Homo sapiens: one gene and its partners. The protein of the gene in region 3 purifies or fractionates together with the protein of the main gene of each other region. This does not show direct contact. Each region holds a gene or a part of one and is shown on either strand. Other genes may lie near its edges.

Region 1 (7,109 bases), on a different chromosome or scaffold from region 3:
TTAAAAGAAAAAACCCCACACTCCTTTTCCAATTCAATTCTTCAAAAAAGTTTCCACATGTCCTCCATTTCATGTTCCACTCACTCCTCAACCCATTCAGATCTGCCCCTCACCACCACTCCACTCAGCTCTCATTAAGATCAATGACCTTGAGAATGTTGCTAAATCTAAAGGACATCTTTTCATCTAACCCCTACTTGACCTCTCACTAGTATTCAAAACAATTGCCCTTTCTCTTCTTGAATCACTTTCTTTCCTGTGTTGACATGCGCACTAATGATGCAAAAGCAATAGTGGATAAAACTGCAGGTGCTTTAACATGAATCAAGGCAGTAGCCCTAACCTGTACTAGATAACTGTATTCTTCACTGCCAAGCACTGGTATTAAGAAAAAAGCCAGTTTCACTAAAGAATAAACTAGATGAAGCAAAATTATTAAATTTACTAAATCTCAACCCCTGAAGATACATCTTTTCAATATTCTACTTAAAGGAAATGGGAATTAATTATAAAGCACTGCATACGGAAGAATAATGGCAAAGTACATACTTGAGGACTGAACTAGCCACTTTTTTCTTGCAACACCATTTTTACTTGAAGGACTATCAGACAAACTGATCATTCAGACTTGGCTATCTGGCAAACATTTTTTCAAAATTTAATCACGTATGCCTTTCATTTCAAGGAAAACGATCAACTGTATTTGTTGCCAATCATAACACTCAACTTTACAAGCAAAAATGACATTTTTGGAAAACTTGTATTTGACACCATGAGCTTGAAAGCTTCTGAATATTTAAAAACTTGTCTGATGAGAGTGGTAGTCATATTGACAAATAAGACTTTTTGGCACTGTGGAATGAGATATGTCCACATTTGGAAAATCTGTGTAACTCAGTGGACTGATATTTTCCACATGACCAATGCATAATTTTTGCAAAAGTAAACATGGGTAAAACAGTCACTCAAAGTATAAGACAGACCATCAGATTTTAATGTAACAGAGTGAGTATAAGTTCACTGATATGATATCAGAATCCACATTATAACTAATCCTGGTAGGGTGCAGTGGCTCATGCCTGTAATCCAGTACTTTGGGAGGCCAAGGCAGGTGCATCACTTGAGGTAAGGAGTTCGAGGCCAGCCTGACCAACATAAAATACTAAAAATAAAAAAAATTATTCCAGTGTGGTTGTCTGCGCCTGTAGTCCCAGCTACTCAGGAGGCTAAGGCGGGAGAACTGCTTGAATCTAGGAGGTGGAGGTTGCAGTGAGCCAAGATCGCACCACTACACTCCAACCTGGGTGCGAGAATCTGCCTCGAAGAAAAAAAAAAAAAAAAAAACAGAATCCACATTATAACTAATCCTTAAGAAACTATCACTTGTTGAATTTTGACATGTTATCAAAGAAGCATATCCATGATTACGTTAAAAAATATAATATTCTTCTTCCCTTTCCCAAATACATCTGTGGATGATTTTTTCATATATTTCAATCAAAATAACATAATGCAACAAACTGAATGCAGAAGCAGATATGAGAATCCAGCTATCTTCCATTAAGGCAGACTTTAAGGAGATTTGCAAAAATGTAAATTAATGCCTCTATTCTCCCAAAATGTTTTCTTTTAAAAAAGTTATTTTTCACAAAAAAATTTTAACATGTAAGGGGTTTATTATTATAATTTTTTTTTTTTTTTTTGAGACAGAGTCTTGCTCTGTCGCCCAGGCTGGAGTGCAGTGGGGCGATCTCGGCTCACTGCAAGCTCCGCCTCCTGGGTTCTGACCTGAGGTCAGGAGTTCAAGATCAGCCTGGCCAACATGGTGAAACTCCGTCTCTACTAAAACTACAAAAATTAGCTGGACACGGTGGCGCACACCTGTAATCCCAGCTACTAGGGAGGCTGATGCTGGAGAATCACTTGAACCCAGGAGGCAGAGGTTGCAGTGAGCCAAGATTGTGCCACTGCACTCCAGCCTGGGTGACAGAGCAAGACTCCATCTCAAAAAAAAAAAAAAAAAAAAAAAAACAACTTCCCAGTTTCATTCTGAATATGGCAAATAGCAGTAAGCATACTAACATAAACAAAAGTTCTTCAGGATCCACAATAATTTTTAAGAGCTTAAGGAAGTCCTGAGACCATAGAGTTTAAGCATCACTGCCCTAGATCTCAATCACATCCCATGGCCACAATTAACCTCCACAGGTGCTTGACTCTAAAATTTTTCTCTAATCCAGGCTTCACCTCCAATTTCCATTTATACAACTGCTTACTTAATATCTCCACTGAGATGTCTCAAAAGTACCTCATACTCAACATATCCAAACCCAAACTCATGATCTCAATCTCTCAAACATGGTCCTCTTTCCAGTGTTCTCTCTCAGTGAGTGGCATCATCATCCATTGTAACCTGAGTCATCCACGACACTTCCTTCTCCCTCTCTCATATTTAATCATTCGACAAATCCTGACTATCTTGCCTTCCAAATCTCTCTCAAATATATTCAACTTTCTACTTTTATCACAAAACCCTCTATCTCTCTGGATCATAGCCTCCTATCAAGTCTACAAGCATTTGTTTGTTTTGTTCCCACTTCCTATCTCTCCTTACTCATCCTTCCTAGCTCTAGGAAAAACCACTTCCCCTTTCTTGGCCAGGCACGGTGGCTCACGCCTGTAATCCCAGCACTCTGGAAGGCCAAGGCGGGAGGATCACTTAAGCTCAGGAGTTCTAGATCAGCCTGGGGAACCTAGTGAGACCTTGTCTCCATCTAATTTAAAAAAAAAAAAAAAAAAAAAAGGTCACACCTGTAATCCCAGCACTTTGGGAGGCCAAGGCGGGCGGATCACTTGAGGTCAGGAATTCGAGACCAGCCTGGCCAACATAGTGAAACCCGATCTCTACTTAAAAATACAAAAAGTAGCCAGGCATGGTGGCGTGTGCATGTAATTCCAGTTACTGGGGCGGCTGAGGCAGGAGAATCACTTGAACCTGGGAGGTGGAGGTTGCAGTGAGCTCAGATCACGCTATTACACTCCAGCATGGGTGACAGAGCAAGACTCTTGTCTTGAAAAAAAAAAAAAGAAAAACCACTTCCCCAAAGACCACTCTGCCCATCCCCACCTCTCCAGGTCTTGTCCCTGCTTCATGCTGTCACAGTACCCTGAGCTTTTCCTTCATGACATTTAACACAGTTTGTAACCACATTTTTTCCCCACAATTATCTGTTTTCCCTATTAGACTATTAGGCACATAAGGTGCTGTATTTGTTTTGGTCATCACCATATCTTTCCAAGACCTAACATAAAGTAGACAATTTAAAGTTAAAAAACTTGTTCCTGTACAGGTATTTTTTTACCTTTTAGTGTAAACATATCAAAAAAGATTTTTTTACCACTGTGTTCAATAACTTTGGAATCCAGACTCAAAACAATGTTCCTTGGATATCTCTTGAAGGATACACTAGGAAATGATTAACAGTGGTTTCCTCTGGGAAGAGGAACCAAGTAACCAGGAGACAGGAAAGGGAAGACAACGGACTTTTTACTGTATATCCTTTTGTGCCCTCAAAATTAAGTGACATCATTATTTTTTAAATAAAGCCTACTAGCACCTAAAAGCATCTTCTGAGATGCTCAATTTCCAGAGGACATAACTTTCAAATTATATTCAGATTTAGTAGCAAGATCTAGAAATGCCCATAATACATATTTATAACATTAATACATATGATGATCACCTATTTTGATGTGAATACAAAATGCTCATTAGCTAATAACTCATATTACTATTACTTACTTTTTTTTTTTTTTTTGGAGGCACGGTCTCACTCTGTCACCGAGGCTGGAGTGCAATGGCACAATCTTGGTTCACTGCAACCTCCGGCTCCCAGGTTCAAGAGATTCTCCTGCCTCAGCCTCCCAAGTAGCTGGGATTACAGGCACATGCCACAGTGCTCAGCTAAATTTTGTATTTTTAGTTGAGATGGGGTTTCACCATGTTTGCCAGGCTGGTCTTGAACTCCTGACCTCAAGTGATCTGCCCACTTCAGCCTCCCAAAGTGCTGGGATTACAGGCATGAGCCACCGCACCCGGCCATGTTTACATTACTACATTTTAGAACTCGATACATCAGGTAAAAGCAAAAACGAATCTTGAACGTGTTTTACTTTCTGGAGCATTACCTTGATAAGTTCAGGCATTAATAAGAAGCACTGACACATCATAGAAGAAGTTATATTCGTTGAACTTCAGAAAGACACTGTCAAAATGGGTACAAACAGTGGAGAGCCGGCCGGGCGCGGTGGCTCACGCCTGTAATTCCGGCACTTTGGGAGGCTGAGATGGGTGGATCACAAGGTCAGGAGATTGAGACCATCCTGGCTAACACAGTGAAACCTCGTTTCTACTAAAAATACAAAAATTAGCTGGGCATGGCTAAAATAGCACTGCGCTCCAGCCTGGGTGACAGAGCGAGACTCTGCCTCAAAAAAAAAAAAAAAAAAAAGTGGAGAGCCATGTACAATACTAAGTTAAAGGAAAAAGAAATCCTTGACTATTATCCCATTTATTTTCAGAAAAATCCTGCAAGGATGAGGAAACAGACTTCAAAGGCTATCACACAACTATTCAGTGGAAAAGGCAGGTATCTGAACCCAAGTCTATCCCATTGCAGAGGCCACTGTTTCTACCACACCACCTGCCTTTCCTGACTAAACAGATGTGAAACTATTAAGACAAGCTAATTAAGCAAACATATTATCAGGACATACAGGCATGTTTTGGTTTATTAGACAGAACTAAGTCCTATTTGCTACTACTTTATGAAATCAAGGTAGTATGAAAGATTTTTACCAATATTCAAAATATGCACATCATCTTGCTTTTTTTGCCTGCTGGGAGTTGATTGTTTAAAAGAATTTTAAAAGACCTTTCCAAATCAATCACTTTATTCATGGAATAAAGTGCTAAAATAAAATTCAAAATTAGATATTTATTAATGATGGCATCAGTGGGTAGCCCACTTTACTCAAAACACTTAACATACATTCTCTCCTTTAATCCTCACAAGAAGGCCCACTGGAAAAAAGACTACTGGCTGGGCATGGTGGCTCACACCTGTAACCCCAGCACTTTGGGAGGCTAAGGCAGGTGGATCAGGAGATCAAGAGATGGAGACCATCCTGGTCAACATGGTGAAACCCCATCTCTACTAAAAATACAAAAATTAGCCAGGTATGGTGGCACGCACCTGTTGTCCCAGCTACTCGGGAGGCTGAAGCAGGAGAATCACTTGAACCTGGGAGGCGGAGGTTGCAGTGAACCAAGATCGCACCACTGCACTCCAGCCTGGGCAACAGAGCAAGACTTCATATGAAAAAACAGAAAAGAAAAAAAGACTACTGCCATTTTACAGGGGAAGAAAGTAAGGCTCTCAGAGGCTAATGAACACAACAGACCAAGAATCTGAACCCAAGTCTCTGATGCCACAGCCCATTCTTTCCATCTCACTATGCCTCCCTCACTAGTTTCAAGAAGGAACCAGGACAATTTTCCCTTGTAACAACAAGAAAATCTGGCTATAGAATGAAAAGCAAACTAATGTTTAAAAACAAAACAGTCACAAAATTAAACCAAATGTCTAGTTTTTGGAGGTTACTGGTACACTACCCCAAACACGGCTAACCCCTTCAACTTGAAATACTCTTGTATCTTCATATAGTAAATCATATCTGACTTAACTTTAGGTTCATTTCCTTAAAATTACATTATAAAGCCAGGTGTGGTGGCACAGCCTATAGTCCCAGCTACTGAAGAGGCCGAGGCAGGAGAATCGCTTGAACCCAGGAGCTCGAGGCCAGACTGGGCAACATAGTGAGGCCCCAGTCTCTTAAAAATTACATCATACTATATATGAATAAAGCCTAGAAAGGAAAATGGAAAAAATAACAGCTGTTATGTTAGGATGGAAGGATTTTACATAGAGATAAATTTTATGTTTTAAAAATTTCATTTAAATTGTTTTAACATGGCAACACTTTTTTTTTTTATTATACTTTAAGTTTTAGGGTACATGTGCTCAACGTGCAGGTTTGTTACATATGTATACATGTGCCATATTGGTGTGCTGCACCCATTAACTTGTCATTTACATTAGGTATATCTCCTAATGCTATCCCTCCCCCCTCCCCCTACCCCACAACAGCCCCCGGTGTGTGATGTTCCCCTTCCTGTGTCCAAGTGTTCTCATTGTTCAATTCCCACCTATGAGTGAGAACATGCATTTGGTGTTTTGTCCTTGCGATAGCTTGCTGAGAATGATGGTTTCCAGCTCCATCCATGTCCCTACAAAGGACATGAACTCATCATTTTTTATGGCTGCATAGTATTCCATGGTGTATATGTGCCACGTTTGCTTAATCCAGTCTATCATCGATCGACATTTGGGTTGGTTCCAAGTCTTTGCTATTGTGAATAGTGACACAATAAACATACGTGTGCATGTGTCTTTATAGCAGCATGATTATTATAATCCTTTGGGTATATACCCAGTAATGGGATTGCTGGGTCAAACGGTATTTCTAGTTCTAGATCCTTGAGGAATCGCCACACTGTTTTCCACAATGGTTGAACTAGTTTACAGTCAGTCCCACCAACAGTGTAAAAGTGTTCCTATTTCTCCACATCCTCTCCAGCACCTGTTGTTTCCTGACTTTTTAATGATCGGGCAACACTTTTTTAAATGTCATAACAAATACTTCTACTACATATTAGTACTAAACAGAAGCTACGAAATGACAATTGACTTGACTGACAAGTATGATTTTTAAAATACCAAAAGTAACTTTCAGGTTACCTCTAATGAAATCTATGAACGCAATTTTTAACTTGAGAGTCAGGATGAGGAAAAAAATAAAAAATAAAAATAAATTTTAAAAAATCTACTTTACTATAAATCCTGCTAAAACAAGTGTCAACTAAGGGCTAAGTTATTCTTACATACTCAAAATTCTGCCAATGACAAAAACTAATGGAAATAAATGGACCACTAACTAATTGTAATTTGGAAATTTTATTAGTAAGGATTTTTATCTTAGTACTGTTT
Region 2 (7,109 bases), about 190 Mb from region 3:
GAAAGGCATTTTTTGCCTTATGATAGGGTTATATACCAATAAAACCCTTGTAAATTTAAAATATTCTAAGTTCAAAATGCATTTAAGACACCTAAACTATCAAATATAGGTTAGTCTGGCCTACCTTAAATGTGCTCAGAACTCTTATATTAGCCTACAGTCGAGGAAAATCATCTAACACAAAGCCCATTTCATTATAGTGTTGAATATCTCGTGGAATTTATTGATACTGACAGTGAAAAACAGTGGTCATATGTGTACTCACTGTAAACATACACAGTTGAAAGCACTCTGGGCCTGAAGAATGTTTGAAGCATTGAACTAAAAGTTAATTGCTGGATTATGGAGAAGCTACATCAACAGGGTCACCAGTTGCTCTTCTAAGCATTGGAGCCCATTGACACTTGTTGATGGTTTAGCAGGCATAGTGTTCAAGAAGATATCAAGTATTGGTTGTTTACCCTTGTGATCGTGTGGCTGACTGGGAGCTGCAGCTCACTCTGCTGACCAGCATTGAAAGAGTATCATATTATGTCACTAGCCTGGGAAGAGATCAAAACTCAAAATTTGAAGTATGGTTTCTACTTTATACCGTTGTAATTCCAAAAATCATGAGTCAGGGACTATCTGTACATGCCTTTATAGCCTCACCTTACTGTCAGTTTCTTACACTTTCATAGGACCTTGACTGTATCACTGTTTGAGGTTGTGAACAGTTTTGAGAATAGACACATGATAATCAATGAATACATATTTTTTGAGTGAATGACCATGTAATCTCTGCTTGGAGTGTCCCAAATGTTGCATTGAAATTGTCAGATTTCTTGTTTGTATTCTTCACTAAACTTTAGCTTTAAAGGGACTAGAACCATGTCTTACCCACCTCTGTATTTTCAGTGGCTAGCACAGAACAGGTGATAAGTAAAGGGTTAAGAGAACTTAATATTGGGGCCGGGTGTGGTGGCTCATGCCTGTAATCCAGCACTTGGGGAAGCTGAAGTGGGAGGATCTCTTGATACCATGAGTTTCGAGACTGGCTTGGACAACAAAGTGGGACTCTATAATAAACCTACAAAAAATTAGCTGGGCATGGTGGCATGGGCTTGTAGTCCCAGTTACTCAGGAGGCTGAGTGGAAGGATCACCTGACTGGGGAAGTCAAAGTTGCATTCGGCTGTGATTGTGCCACTGCACTCCAGCCTAGGCGATAGTGAGACCCTGTTTCAAAAAAAAGAAAAAAAGAACTTAATGTTTTTCAAGATACAGTATGTTCTCTCTGACTACGGGTTCAGTATATGTGAATTCAGCCAACTTTGGATGGAAAATATTTGGGGAAAAATACCTGCATCTGTATTGAACATGTACAGACTTTTTTCTTGTCATTATGTAAACAATACAGTATAAAGGATTTATACTGTATTAGTGTTTATAAGTAATTTAGAAATGATTTGTAGTATATGAGAATGTCTGCATAGGTTATATGCAAACCTTACACCATTTTATATAAGGAGACTTGAGCATCTGTGGATACTGGTCAGAGAGTTCTGGAACCAATCTCCTACAGATTTTGAGGGACAGCTGTACAACAGAAAGGACAACAGATTAAATTTTCCATTCAGTTAACAGTAGGAATGAGGTGGTTTCGTTACATATAAATCATTACTAGAGTATGAAGGATGTATCTTCAGATACTCTCATCAAGTGGAATAGGTATGGCATGACCAGTTTTATGTTGAATTGTTGCAGATGTATTCTAACAAAGTTTGTTTGGGGTTTTGTTTGCTAGGAAGAGGCATCTCCCTACACTTTGGTCAACATCTGCCTGAATGTCCTGATTGCTAACCTGGAGAAATTGTGTTCTGAAAGACCTGATGGAACACTGTGCCTTCCGGAGCATTGGAGTTTCCCTCAGGAAGTAGCCGAGCGATTTCTCAGGGTGATGACTTGGCAAGGTAGTGATAAGGCTTCTCTAAAGTCAGCTCTTGCAGTACTTTACTATTTGAAAAGCACTTTTACACACAATTTCTATTGTGATTCTCACAAAGTATTTCCATTTCATTTGTCTGGAAGTTGAGACTCACTCTTTCTGGGATTCCATGATGGAAATTGTCTTCTAGGCTAGCCCTGCTATTGACTTGGTTTTCCACTCTTCACTTACGTAAAGTTATCACTCATCCATCTGCTCTCTAGCTTTGTTTTTTTTTTTGAGACGGATTTTCACCCTTGTCGCCAAGGCTGGAGTGTAGTGGCACAATCTTTGCTCACTGCAGCCTCCGCCTGGGTTTAAGCGATTCTCCTGCCTCAGCCTCCTGAGTAGCTGGGATTACAGGCGCCCACCACACCTGGCTGATTTTTGTATTTTTAGTAGAGATGGGGTTTCACCACTTTGGTCAGGCTGGTCTTGAACTCCTGAGTTCAGATGATCCGTCTGCCTTGGCTTCCCAAAGTGCTGGGATTACAGACATGAGCCACTGTGCCCGGCCTGCTCTCTAGCTTTTTCAAAATGCTCTTGCTGTAGTCTTGTTTACCATTCTTTTCATTATGGTTATGAGTCTTACCTCCCATTGTAGCTGGGCTTAAAGAACTCCACTAAAAAAATAAAGGAAAAAAAGGGCATTTTATTATTTATTTATTTATAACCTGGGATTACAGATGTGAGTCACCATGTCCGGTCATAATTTTTGTATTTTTAGTAGAGATGGGGTTTCACCATGTTGGCCAGGCTGGTCTCAAACTCTTGACCTCAAGTGGTCTGCCTGCCTCGGCCTCCCAAAGTGCTGGGATTACAGGCGTGAGGCACCGTGCCTGGCCCATAATCAATTTTAGAACCTCAAACTTTCCATCACCTCAGAAAGAAACCTTGTGCCCGTTAGATTTTATTTCCCTTTTCCCGCATCCCTCCAGCCCTAAGCAACCACAAGTCTACTTTCCATCTCTATGTATGGATTTGCCTATTCTGAACATTTAATATAAATTAAATCATCCAATATGTGGCCTTGTGTGCCGAACTTTTTTCATTTAGCATGTTTAAGGCTCACATTGTGCAACATGTATATCTGTACTCGTTCCTTTTTATAGTCGCATATTCTACTGTATGGACATACCACATTGTATTTATCTGTTTTTCGGTTGATGGACATTTGTGGTGTTCTCACTTTTGGGCTATTATGAATAATATGCTACCATAAAGATATGTGTACAAATTTTATTTTTAAACTTAAAAAATTTATTCTAAACTTTCTCTGCTCCATATGAATCTGCAGGAATGTGTAAGAGTTTCTATGTGGACATAAGTTTTCATTTCTCTGAGTGAAATTGCTGGATCAAATGGTAACTCATTATCTTTTTGAGGAACTGCCAGACTATTGTTTGTGGCTGTACTATTTTACATTCCCATCAGCAGTGTCCAAGGGTTCTAATTTCTCCACGTTCTCACCAAGACTCATCTGACATTTTGATTATAGCCATCCTAGTGGATGTGAAATAGTATCTGTTGTGCTTTTAATTTGCATTTCTTTAATGACTTATGGTGTTGGTATTTACCTGGTATGCCTCCCTATACTGAATTCCTTGTGGTCACAGGTGTCTGATTACCTTACGTGCCTGTTACATAACATGGAATCTCACCATAGAAGATGTGTAGTAGGCCAGGTGCAGTGCCTGTAGTCCCAGCTACTTGGGAGGCTGAGGCAAGGGAATCGCTTGAACTTGGGAAGCGGAGGTTGCAGTGAGCCCCCACTGCACTCCAGCCTGGGTGACAGAGCAAGACTCCATCTCAAAAAAAAAAAAAAAAAAAAAAATATGTGTAGTAAATGAAAAATAGGACAACCCATTCGTTTTACAGATGAGGAAAATGAGGCCCAGAGAGGTAAGTGACTTGTCAAATATTATCTACTAATTTGGTTAAAAATAATATTAGTAGTGCTACTTGTATATTGTATATCCTGTACTTATCTACCTATTTTATTTTGTTCTTCCTTTCTGTGAGCAAGGTTACTGTAGATAAAATTTTGGGCTCTACAGCCAAACTGGGGTTGACTCCTGATTCTGATGGTGACCTTGGATAAATTACTTAACCTATTCAAGTTTCAGTTTCCTCAGCTACATAGTAGTAGTAACAATAATTCCTTTATAGTATTAATGCAAAGAATACATGAGATAATAATCTTATTAAAGGAGTTTAGAACAATGCTAGCACAGAGCAGTAAATGTTGTCATTATTGTTATTATTAACATCTGTCTTAATTCTTTGCCACATTTTATCCTGGAAAGACATGAGATCTAGTTGTCATTACAAGTTGGTTCTGGTTCTTTCATAGGCAAGCTGACTGACAGAACAGCCAGCATTTTCCGAGGCAACCAAATGAAACTGAAGCTGGTCAATATCCAAAAAGCTAAAATCTCTACAGCTGCATTCATAAAAGCCTTCTGCCGTCATAAGCTCATTGAACTGAATGCTACTGCAGTGCACGCTGACCTCCCAGTTCCAGACATCATAAGTGGACTCTGCAGCAATAGGTGGATCCAGCAAAACCTCCAGTGTCTCCTGTTAGACTCGACAAGCATCCCTCAAAATTCAAGATTACTGTTCTTTAGTCAGCTCACTGGTCTTCGCATTTTAAGTGTTTTTAATGTTTGTTTTCATACTGAAGACCTGGCTAATGTTTCTCAGTTACCAAGACTGGAAAGCTTAGATATCTCTAATACTCTAGTCACTGATATTTCTGCACTGCTTACCTGTAAGGATCGATTGAAGTCTCTCACAATGCACTATCTGAAATGCCTGGCCATGACCAAATCACAAATTCTTGCAGTCATTAGAGAACTTAAATGTCTGCTTCACCTTGATATTTCTGATCACAGGCAACTCAAATCAGACCTAGCTTTTCATTTGCTACAGCAGAAGGATATCCTGCCCAATGTTGTGTCATTGGATATTTCTGGGGGCAATTGCATCACTGATGAAGCTGTAGAACTGTTTATACGACTGCGGCCTGCCATGCAATTTGTGGGACTATTGGCCACGGATGCTGGCTCTTCTGACTTCTTTACTACAAAGCAAGGCTTGAGGGTTTGTTCTTATCTGAATAAGTTTTGTTTCATTTGTTTAGAACATTATTAAACTCGTGCTATAGACCAGACTTTTTACTAGGTATTAGGGTTACAGAGACAGATAAAAAAATCCTTAAAGAGCTTTTTTAATAATTAATGATTATTATGTACCTACTATGTGGAAGGTTGTGAGAATATTATTATTATTTTTTGAGATGGAGTAGTTTTGTATTTTTAATAGAGATTGGGTTTCTTCATGTTGGTCAGGCTGGTCTCGAACGCCTGACCTCAGGTGATCTGCTTGCCTCGGCTTCCCAAAGTGCTGGGATCATAGGCATGAGCCACTGTGCCTGGCCACACGTGAGAATATAATATTAAGATACAGGCTGGGCATGGTGGCTCACACCTGTAATCCCAGCACTTTGGGAGGCCAAGGCGGGCAGATCACTTGAGGTCAGGAGTCCGAGACCAGCCTGGCCAACATGGTGAAACCTGGTCTCTACTAAAAATACAAAAATTAGCCGGTGTGTTGGCGGGCGCCTGTAGTCCCAGCTACTTGGGAGGCTGAGGCAGGAGAATCACTTGAACCTGGGAGGTGGAGGTTGCACCACTGCACTCCAGCCTGGCCAAAAGCGAAACGCAGTCTCAAAAAAAAAAGAAGATATAGTGGGTTCAAGTGATTCTCCTGCCTCGGCTTCCCGAGTAGCTGGGACTACAGGCACGTGCCACCATGCCCAGCTAGTTTTTTATTTTTAGTAGAGACGGGGTTTCACCATGTTGGCCGGGCTGGTCTCGAACTCCTAACCTCAGGTGATCCGCCTGCCTCGGCCTCCCAAAGTGCTGGGATTATAGGCATGAACCACTGCGCCCGGCCCGATTATTATTATTATTTTTTTTTGGAGACTGAGTTGTGCTCTTGTTGCCCAGGGTGGAGTGCAATGGCGCAATCTCGGCTCACTGCAACCTTCGCCTCCCGGGTTCAAGCGATTCTCCTGCCTCAGCTTCCCGAATAGCTGGGATTACAGGTGTGCACCACCACACCTGGCTAATTTTTTGTATTTTTAGTAGAGGCAGAGTTTCACTATGTTGGTCAGGCTGGTCTCGAACTCCCAGACCTCAGGTGATCCACCTGCCTTGGGCTCCCAAAGTGCTGGGATTACAGGCATGAGCCACCATGCTTGGCCCAGAGCTGTTGTTTTAAAGTAACTCTTTCTTTATAATAATACCTCCTTAGTTCTTCCTAGGGGAAGAGAATAAAGTGATTTGTATACTCATTAGTTGTGTTAACATTTTATTCTTTTGATTTGAAGTTAGCAATTGTTGTATTTTAATTAATTAATTAATTAATTTTTTATTGAGACAGAGTCACTCTGTTGTTCAGGATGGAGTGCAGTGGCACAATCTTGGCTCACTGCAACCTCTGCTGTGAGCTGAGATCCCCAAATTTTTTTTGGGACAGTCGAGTCCTGCTCTGTCGCCCAGGCTGGAGTGCAGTGGTCCGATCTTGGCTCACCACCAAGGATTATCTCTTCCCCCCTTGGATAAACTTGGCATCTTTGTTGAAAATCGGGTGTCCGTATATGTGTGAGTCTGTTACTGGGCTCTTTATTTTTTATTTTTTTTGAGACGGAGTCTTGCTCTGTCGCCCAGGCTGGAGTGCAGTGACACGATCTCTGCTCACTGCAATCTCCGCCTCCCGGGTTCACGCCATTCTCCTGCCTCAGGCTCCAGAGTAGCTGGGACTATAGGCACCCACCACCACGCCTGGCTAATTTTTTGTATTTTTAGTAGAGATGGTGTTTCACCGTGTTAGCCAGGATAGTCTCGATCTCCTGACCTCGTGATCTGCCTGCCTCATCCTTCCAAAGTGCTAGGATTACAGGTGTGAGCCACCACGCCCAGCTGGGCTCTTTATTTTTATCTGTTTGTGTATTGCCTTTTTTTTTTTTTTTTTTTTTTTTTTTTGAGACAGAGTCTCGGTCTGTCACCCAGGCTGGAGTGCAGTGGTGTGATCTCGGCTCACTGCAACCTCTGCCTCCCGGGTTCAAGTGATTCTCC
Region 3 (7,598 bases):
CTACCAAAATACCAATGACATTCTTCAGAGAAATAGAAAAACTAAGCCTAAAATTTTTTTGGAACCACAAAAGACTAAGAATAGCCAAAGCCATCCTGAACAAAAAGGAAAAAACTGGAAGAATTACTCTACTTGACTTCAGATTATATTACAGAGCTATAGCAACAAAAACAGCATGGTACTAGCATAAAACAAGACACATAGCTCTATGGAACAAAATAAAGAACCAAGAAAAAAATCCATACATCTACAGCAAATTAATCTGTGACAGAGGCACCAAGAACATACTTTGGGGGAAACAACAGTCTCTCAATAAGTTGTGCTGGGAAAAATGGATATTCATATGCAGAAGAATAAAACTTGACCCCTTGGCCGGGTGTGGTGGCTCATGCATGTAATCTCAGCACTGTGGGAGGCCAAAGCAGCAGGGTCACTTGAGGCCAGGAGTTCGAGACCAGCCTGGCCAAGGAGTCCGACCAGCCTGGCCAACACAGTGAAACCCTGTCTCTATTAAAATACAAAAGTTAGCTAGCTGTGGTGGCCTGCACCTGTGGTCCCAGTTTACTCGGGAGGCTGAGGCACGAGAATAGCCTGAGCCCAGGGGATGACAGAGTGAGACTGTCTCAAAACAAAACAAAACAAAACAAACAAACAAAAAAAACGATAAAAAACAACAACAAAAAAACTTGGCCCCCGTCTCTAGGCATATACAAAAAATCAAATCAAAATGGATTAAAGACGTAAATCTAAGACCTCAAACTATGAACAGAAAACATCAAGGAAACTATCCAGGACACTGGCTGAGTAAAGATTTTACAGCAGAGTGTCAAGTGATTATTCTCTGCTTTCTTCTCATGTGAAATGTTCAGAACAGAAAGAAAATATTTTTTAAAAAGCCACTCATGGCTGGGCACGGTGGCTCAAGCCTGTAATCCCAGCACTTTGGGAGGCCGAGGCGGGAGGATCACAAGGTCAGGAGATCGAGATCATCCTGGCTAACAGGGTGAAACCCTGTCTCTACAAAAAATACCAAAAATTAGCCAGGCATAGTGGCACACGCCTGTGGTCCCAGCTACTCGGGAGGCTGAGACAGGAGTATCGCTTGAACCCGGGAGGCAGAGGTTGCTGTGAGCCAAGATTGCACCATTGCACTCCAGCCTGGGCGACAGAGCGAGACTCTGTCTCAAAAAAAAAAGAAAAAAAAAAAAAGCCCATTCATTGCACTGTGAAAAAAACAAAAAAGAACCGTTAAAATCTTGCATCTGTTTGAAAAGCAAATAAAGGACAAATAAGCCGGGCGCGGTGGTTCATGCCTGTAATCCCAGCACTTTGGGAGGCTGAGGCGGGCGGATCACGAGGTCAGGAGTTCGAGGGCAGCCTGGCCAACATAATGAAACCCCATCTCTACTAAAAATACAAAAATTAGCCGGGCATGGTGGCGCCTGCCTGTATTCCCAGCTACCAGGAGGCTGACGCAGGAGAATCGCTTGAACCTGGGAGGTGGAGGTTGCAGTGAGCCCAGATTGTGCCACTGCACTTCAGCTTACCTGCCATTGGGCAACAGAGTGAGACTTCGTCTCAAAAAAAATAAATAAATAAAAAGAACAAATAGTTGATAATGTTGTGTTTGGAGAGACAAAGTTAGCATTTGGGAATGTAGAAAAGAAACTGGAAACAAGATTTCCTTCAGGCCCTAAAACAGTTAGGCTGGGGGAACAGAGTCCTGGATTTGAGGTCCTGCTTGCCATACATTTGAAAAATGCTGGGAAAACCAGTTCCCCTGTGGAGTGTTAGAATACTTAAATGGCAGACAATTAGACTGAGTGGCTTTGATGTCCTGGGATTCTATCTAAGGAATCCTAGCTAACTTAGATGAATTTCTTGTAAATTGCAAACTTGGAGAAAAACAAAACGTAGGCTTAACCAACCACTAAATGCTAATAAATCTCTTATTACATAATCAGGAAATTTCATCCTGGACAGTCCAAATAAGGTGACTGCATAATGGCAACCGATCAATTATTAAACGTGGTTGCTTCCTCGTGCACCTTATGAAGACCTTCCCTTCAAGTTTAGCCCCAAACCAGGGCTAGGGGCTTCCAGATTCATAAATCACTGTTTGCTGGAATAAACTCCTTAACATTTCAAAGGTGCTTCAGTTTATTTTTTTAAGAGGAGAAAGGAGACCGGGCGCGGTGGCTCACGCCTGTAATCCCAGCACTTTGGGAGGCCGAGGCGGGCGGATCACGAGGTCAAGAGATCGACACCAACATGGTGAAATCTCCGTTTCTAATAAAAATACAAAAATTAGCTGGGCGTGGTGGTGGGCGCCTGTAATTCCAGCTACTCGGGAGGCTGAGGCAGGAGAATCGCTTGAACCTGGGAGGCAGAGGTTGCGGTGAGCCGAGATCGAGCCACCGAACTCCAGCCTGGCGACAGGGCGAGACTCCGTCTCAAAAAAAAAAAAAAAAAAAAAGAGGAGAAAGGAACCCACAGACCACAGCTCCTCCCACCCAGGAACCTTTCACGGGAGTCGGGACTCTCCCGACAACCCCTCCGTCATCACAGCACAATCCAGGGAAGACGCGGCGCTGCGGGCGCGGGGCTGCCCCGGGAGGGCTCTGGGCCGTGCCGAAGTCACCAGGCAGAGACCGGACAGTCACCCAGCGGCCGGGATCCCGCTGCCGGCCCGGCCCCCACCTGCGCGGGACGGGACTGAGGGCCGAGCTGCGCCAGCGGGACTCGGCCGCACACTCCGGAGCCGACCGCCGGGAGGCCCGGGGCCGCCAGCGCTGGTTCCAGCCAATTCCAACCGATTCCAACCACCCCCTCTCCCTTCTCGGGACACCCTGCTCCGCACACTCACCATTTCCCAGCTTTTGGGGGTCCCAGCGTCCTCCCTATAAATCTCGCAATACCTGCAGGCCACAGGGCGATGGAGCCTGCGGCAGTCACCCGGGACTCTCCGAGAGGCAGCAGACGGGAACCCAGCACCCCGCCGGCCGCAAGGAGACAAAGGCCCCGCCAGATCCCCAAGGCCGCCCCTTCCTCTCTGGCTGCACGCCTGATTGGACAGTTCTCACGCTAGCGCCGCTGACTGGATGGGGCTCCAGGCCCCACCCCCTCAGGTCTTGAGTGACAGGAGGTGCGATCAGACACTGGGCCGAATGAAACAAGAGTGACAGGTTTTTGGGTGCAGCCCTTTTGAAGCGACATTCCTCACGGCACTTCGACCTGGACCCACCTGCCTGGGGGATAATGGCATTTAACCTTGTATATAAGATTATATCCATTCATAAGTTTTACACACACACACACACACACACACACACACACATATATATTTCACAAATAGAAACAATGAATGATAATTATTTTAAAGTTTCCGATTTCATAACCTTCCGGGCCTCTGGTCTTTTGACCAGGCAGCCTGAGCTGTGGAAAGTGAGGCAATCCTCTCAGGCAGCAATATGCAATATAAATAAAAGGTGAGCCACGCGTGTCATTTAAAATTTTCTAGGATCTGGCGGGTCGTGGTGGCTTACGCCTGTGATCCCAGCACTTGGGGAGGCTGAGGAGGGAGGATCACATGAGGCCAGGAGTTTGAGACCAGCCTGGCCAGTATGGCGAAACCCCGTCTCTGCTAAAAGTATTTTTAAAAATTAGCCAGGAGTGGTGGTGGTCGCCTGTAATCCCAGCTACTCAGGAGACTGAGGCAGGAGACTCGCGTGAGCCTGGGAAGCGGAGGTTACAGTGAGCCGAGATCATGCCTTTGCACTCCAGCTTGGGTAATAAGAGGAAAACTCCATCTCAAAAACAAAAACAAAACAAAACAAAAAAATCGGCTGTGAAGACATTTCCTCCTGCAGAAATTTAGCCAAACAGCTGAGTATGTCTTGAAGTCATTCTTTGGTTCTTAACAGGGCAAAGCTATTTTCTAAGACCTAAACCCTGGACTGGCCATGGGGCAAACCCTCACAACACATATGGAATTCATGCACAGTTAATGCATCTCTTACCTTGAACCAGTGGTTGCTACTAATTTTGTTTCTGATTCAGCCCAGTTCTACAACTGCCCTGCTATGCACAGGGCACTGTACTAGCTGCCCTGGCCTTGGTGAACATCATTGTGGGGAGAGGACTTTGCTGGGAAAAAGTTGCATCCCCCCAGATTGAAACCATTCCACTTTCCAAATTGGAGTAAAACTGAAAAGACCTAGGGGAGCACCCAAGGTTACAACATGAATGAATAGCTCAGAATATTTAAAGTCATTTGATGGTATCATGGGTGAGTGTGTCTCACTTCAAACAAAATAAAACACTACTGTTATTCTGAGATTCTAAGTTAGGATTTATGTAAAAATATATAATAATTTTTTTGATACACAACACACATACAAAAAAATACAAAGCATTCATGTAAAGCTCTGTGAGTTATTACAAAGCAAATACAGTTGTATAACCAAGAAATAGAACCAGCATCACTCATATCCCAACAATTACTATCTGCCTCCCTTATCTACCTCCCCAGTGGTAAGTAAGATTATTATTATTATTATTATTATTATTATTATTATTATTATTTTAAGACGAAGTCTCGCTCTTGTCCCCCAGGCTGGAGTGCAATGGCGCGATCTTGACTCACTGCAACCTCCACCTCCCGGAATCGAGCGATTCTGCTGCCTCAGCCTCCCGAGTAGCTGGGATTACAGGCGCCTGCCACCACACCCGGCTAATTTTTGTATTTTTAGTAGAGACAGGGTTTTACCATATAGGCCAGCCTGGTCTCGAACTCCTGACCTCAGGTGATGCACCCGCCTTGGCCTCCCAAAGTGCTGGGATTACAGGCGTGAGCCACTGTGCCCTGCCGATTTTTTTTTTCTTTTTTTGAGACAGAGTCTAACCCTTTCACCCAGGCTGAAGATGCTCTAGCGATCCTCCTACCTCAGCCAACTGAGTAGTTGGGACTACAGGCACACAACCACCACAACTGGTTCATTTAAAGATCTTAAGAGCTAACATTGTACATCACTTTTGCCTTTTCATACAAGCGTTTTATTACAGAAAATTTTAGCCATATACAAAATAAACGAAATAGTATAATAGACCCGTCACCCTGATTCAAGAACTACTCATCTTGTGCCATTTTTCTTTCATCTATGCTTCAACCCATTCTGCACCCACTGCTGTATTTTTTTAGTTCCTTTTTTTTTTGCATGAGGTCAGATGTACACACATTGAAAGGCACAAATCTTAAATGTACAGTTTTTAAAAAATAAAATATACCCATATAAGCTTCACCCCTTTTAAGAATGGAATATTTTCATCATTCTCAGAAAACTTCCTCGTATTTCTTCCCAGGCAGTTTTTTTCTACTTTCAGAGGCTGTGTTGATTTATTTTCACTCTAGGTTCATTTTTGCCTGAAGCCATACAATATGCATTTTATTCCACTTTGTCTCATATACCCAGCTTGTGAGATGCAGTCAGGGTGTGTGCTTCAGTGGCTTGTGTCTTCGTACTGCTGGGTAGCATCCTGTTGTATGAATATCCGCTCTACAATTTGCTGAACCATTTTTCTGTTGATGGACATTCGGGTTGTTTCCTATTTTGGGTTTTTATGAACAAAAGATCTATAAATATTCTTGTACAAATACTTGTTATATTTAATGTAATTCCTTTTTAGAATTTGAGTGACGTGTGTTTTTAGTGGGATGACTGGTGATGTTGAGTACCTTTTTATATGCCTGTTGGCCATTTGTATGTCTTCTTTGGGAAAAATACTCAATCTGTTTCATATTTCTGAATCGGTTGTTACTATTCTCTTTTTTGAGATGGAGTCACGCTCTGTCGCCCAGGCTGGAGTGCAGCGGCGTGATCTCAGCTCACTGCAACCTCCACCTCCTGGGTTCAAGTGATTCTCCTGCCTCAGCCTCCCGAGTAGCTGGGACTACAGGCGCGTGCCACCATGCCCAGATAATTTTTTGTATTTTTAGTAGAGACGGGGTTTCACCGTGTTAGCCAGGATGGTCTCGATCTCCTGACCTCGTGATTGGCCCGCCTCGGCCTCCCAAAGTGCTGGGATTACAGGGGTGAGCCACCGCGCCTGGCCAGATGCCACATTTTCTTTATGCATTCATTCATCAAAGAACACTTGGGTTGCGTCCACGTTTCCGCTTTCATGAATATTCCTGCAATAAACATGGGTGTGCAGGTAAGTTTTTCAGGTCCTGCTTTGCATATTTTGGATAGACACCCAGAAGTGGAATCGCTATATCATATAATAATTCCGTTTGAGAAACCTCCGTACGGCCGGGTGCGGTGGCTCACGCCTGTAATCCCAGCACTTTGGGAGGCCGAGGAGGGCAGATCACCTGAGGTCAGGAGTTCGAGACCAGCCTGGCCAACATAGCGAAACCCCGTCTCTACTAAAAATGCAAAAATTAGCCGGGTGTGGTGGCGTGTGCCTGTAATCCCATCTATAGGGAGGCTGAGGCAGGAGAATCACTTGAACATGGGAGGCGGAGGTTGCAGTGAGCCAAGATCACACCATTGCACTCCAGCCTGGGCAACAGAGCAAAACTCTGTCTCAAAAAGAAAAAAAAAAAAAAAGAGAGAGAGAAACTTCTGTACTATTTTTTATAGTAGCTGGATCAATATTTCCCCACTAGCAGTGCACAGAGGTCTCAGTTTCTCCACATCCTAGAGACCATTTGTGGGTTCTTTATTTGCTTGATAGTGGCCATGTAATGGGTGTTAGCAAAGGAAATCTGGTAGATTTGCTTTACATTTTTATTTTATTTATTTATTTATTTATTTTTTTGAGGCAGGGTCTTACTCTTTCACCCAGGCTGGAGTGAAGTAGTGCAATCTTGGCTCACTGCAGCCTCAACCTCCTGGGCTCAACTGAACCTCCCACTTCAGTCTCCCGAGTAGCTGGGACTACAGGCACCTACCTGCCAACACACCCAACTAATTTTTTTTGTTTTGTTTTGTTTTGTTTTTGTTTTTTTTGAGACGGAGTCTCGCTCTGTCGCCCAGGCTGGAGTGCAGGGGCGCGATCTCGGCTCACTGAAAGCTCCGCCTCCCGGGTTCACGCCATTCTCCTGCCTCAGCCTCCCCAGTAGCTGGGACTACAGGTGCCCGCCACCAAGCCCAGCTAATTTTTTGTATTTTTAGTAGAGACGGGGTTTCACCATGTTAGCCACGATGGTCTCGATCTCCTGACCTCGTGATCTGCCCGCCTCGGCCTCCCAAAGTGCTGGGATTACAGACGTGAACCACCGCGCCCGGCCTAATTTTTGTATTTTTATTATAGGTGTGAGCCATTGCGCCTGGCTGCTTTGCATTTTTCTAAGGATTTGTATATCACTGGTCAGTTTTTTGCCCACTTTTAAATGGCATTATTTGCTTTTTCTTTGTTTAGTTTTTGTAGTTGTTTATATATATCCTGTCAGATATTTGCTTTTCAAATATTTTCTCTCATTCCTTAGGTGGGATTTTGACTCCACTGAATGTTTCCTTTGACATGCAGTTTTTTAAGTTTAATGTAGTTCATTCTTTTAGTCTTTTTTGTTGTTGTTTATATATTTGATGTCA

What was found.
Region 1: the proteins of ZNF695 (region 3) and HECTD1 purify together in Homo sapiens (co-immunoprecipitation; 3 studies listed by BioGRID and IntAct, with this or other methods). This does not show direct contact.
Region 2: the proteins of ZNF695 (region 3) and ZYG11A purify together in Homo sapiens (affinity purification with mass spectrometry; 2 studies listed by BioGRID and IntAct, with this or other methods). This does not show direct contact.

What each region holds. Positions count from the first base shown.
Region 1 is NC_000014.9:31,197,709-31,204,817, forward strand, and holds part of HECTD1 (E3 ubiquitin-protein ligase HECTD1), read right to left. Parts: intron 1-7,109. UniProt on the Homo sapiens protein: E3 ubiquitin-protein ligase which accepts ubiquitin from an E2 ubiquitin-conjugating enzyme in the form of a thioester and then directly transfers the ubiquitin to targeted substrates.
Region 2 is NC_000001.11:52,852,680-52,859,788, forward strand, and holds part of ZYG11A (protein zyg-11 homolog A), read left to right. Parts: intron 1-1,785; coding exon 1,786-1,951; intron 1,952-4,318; coding exon 4,319-5,070; intron 5,071-7,109. UniProt on the Homo sapiens protein: Probably acts as a target recruitment subunit in an E3 ubiquitin ligase complex ZYGA-CUL2-elongin BC.
Region 3 is NC_000001.11:247,005,040-247,012,637, forward strand, and holds the start of ZNF695 (zinc finger protein 695), read right to left. Parts: upstream 3,019-7,598; 5' UTR 2,870-3,018; coding exon 2,867-2,869; intron 1-2,866. UniProt on the Homo sapiens protein: May be involved in transcriptional regulation.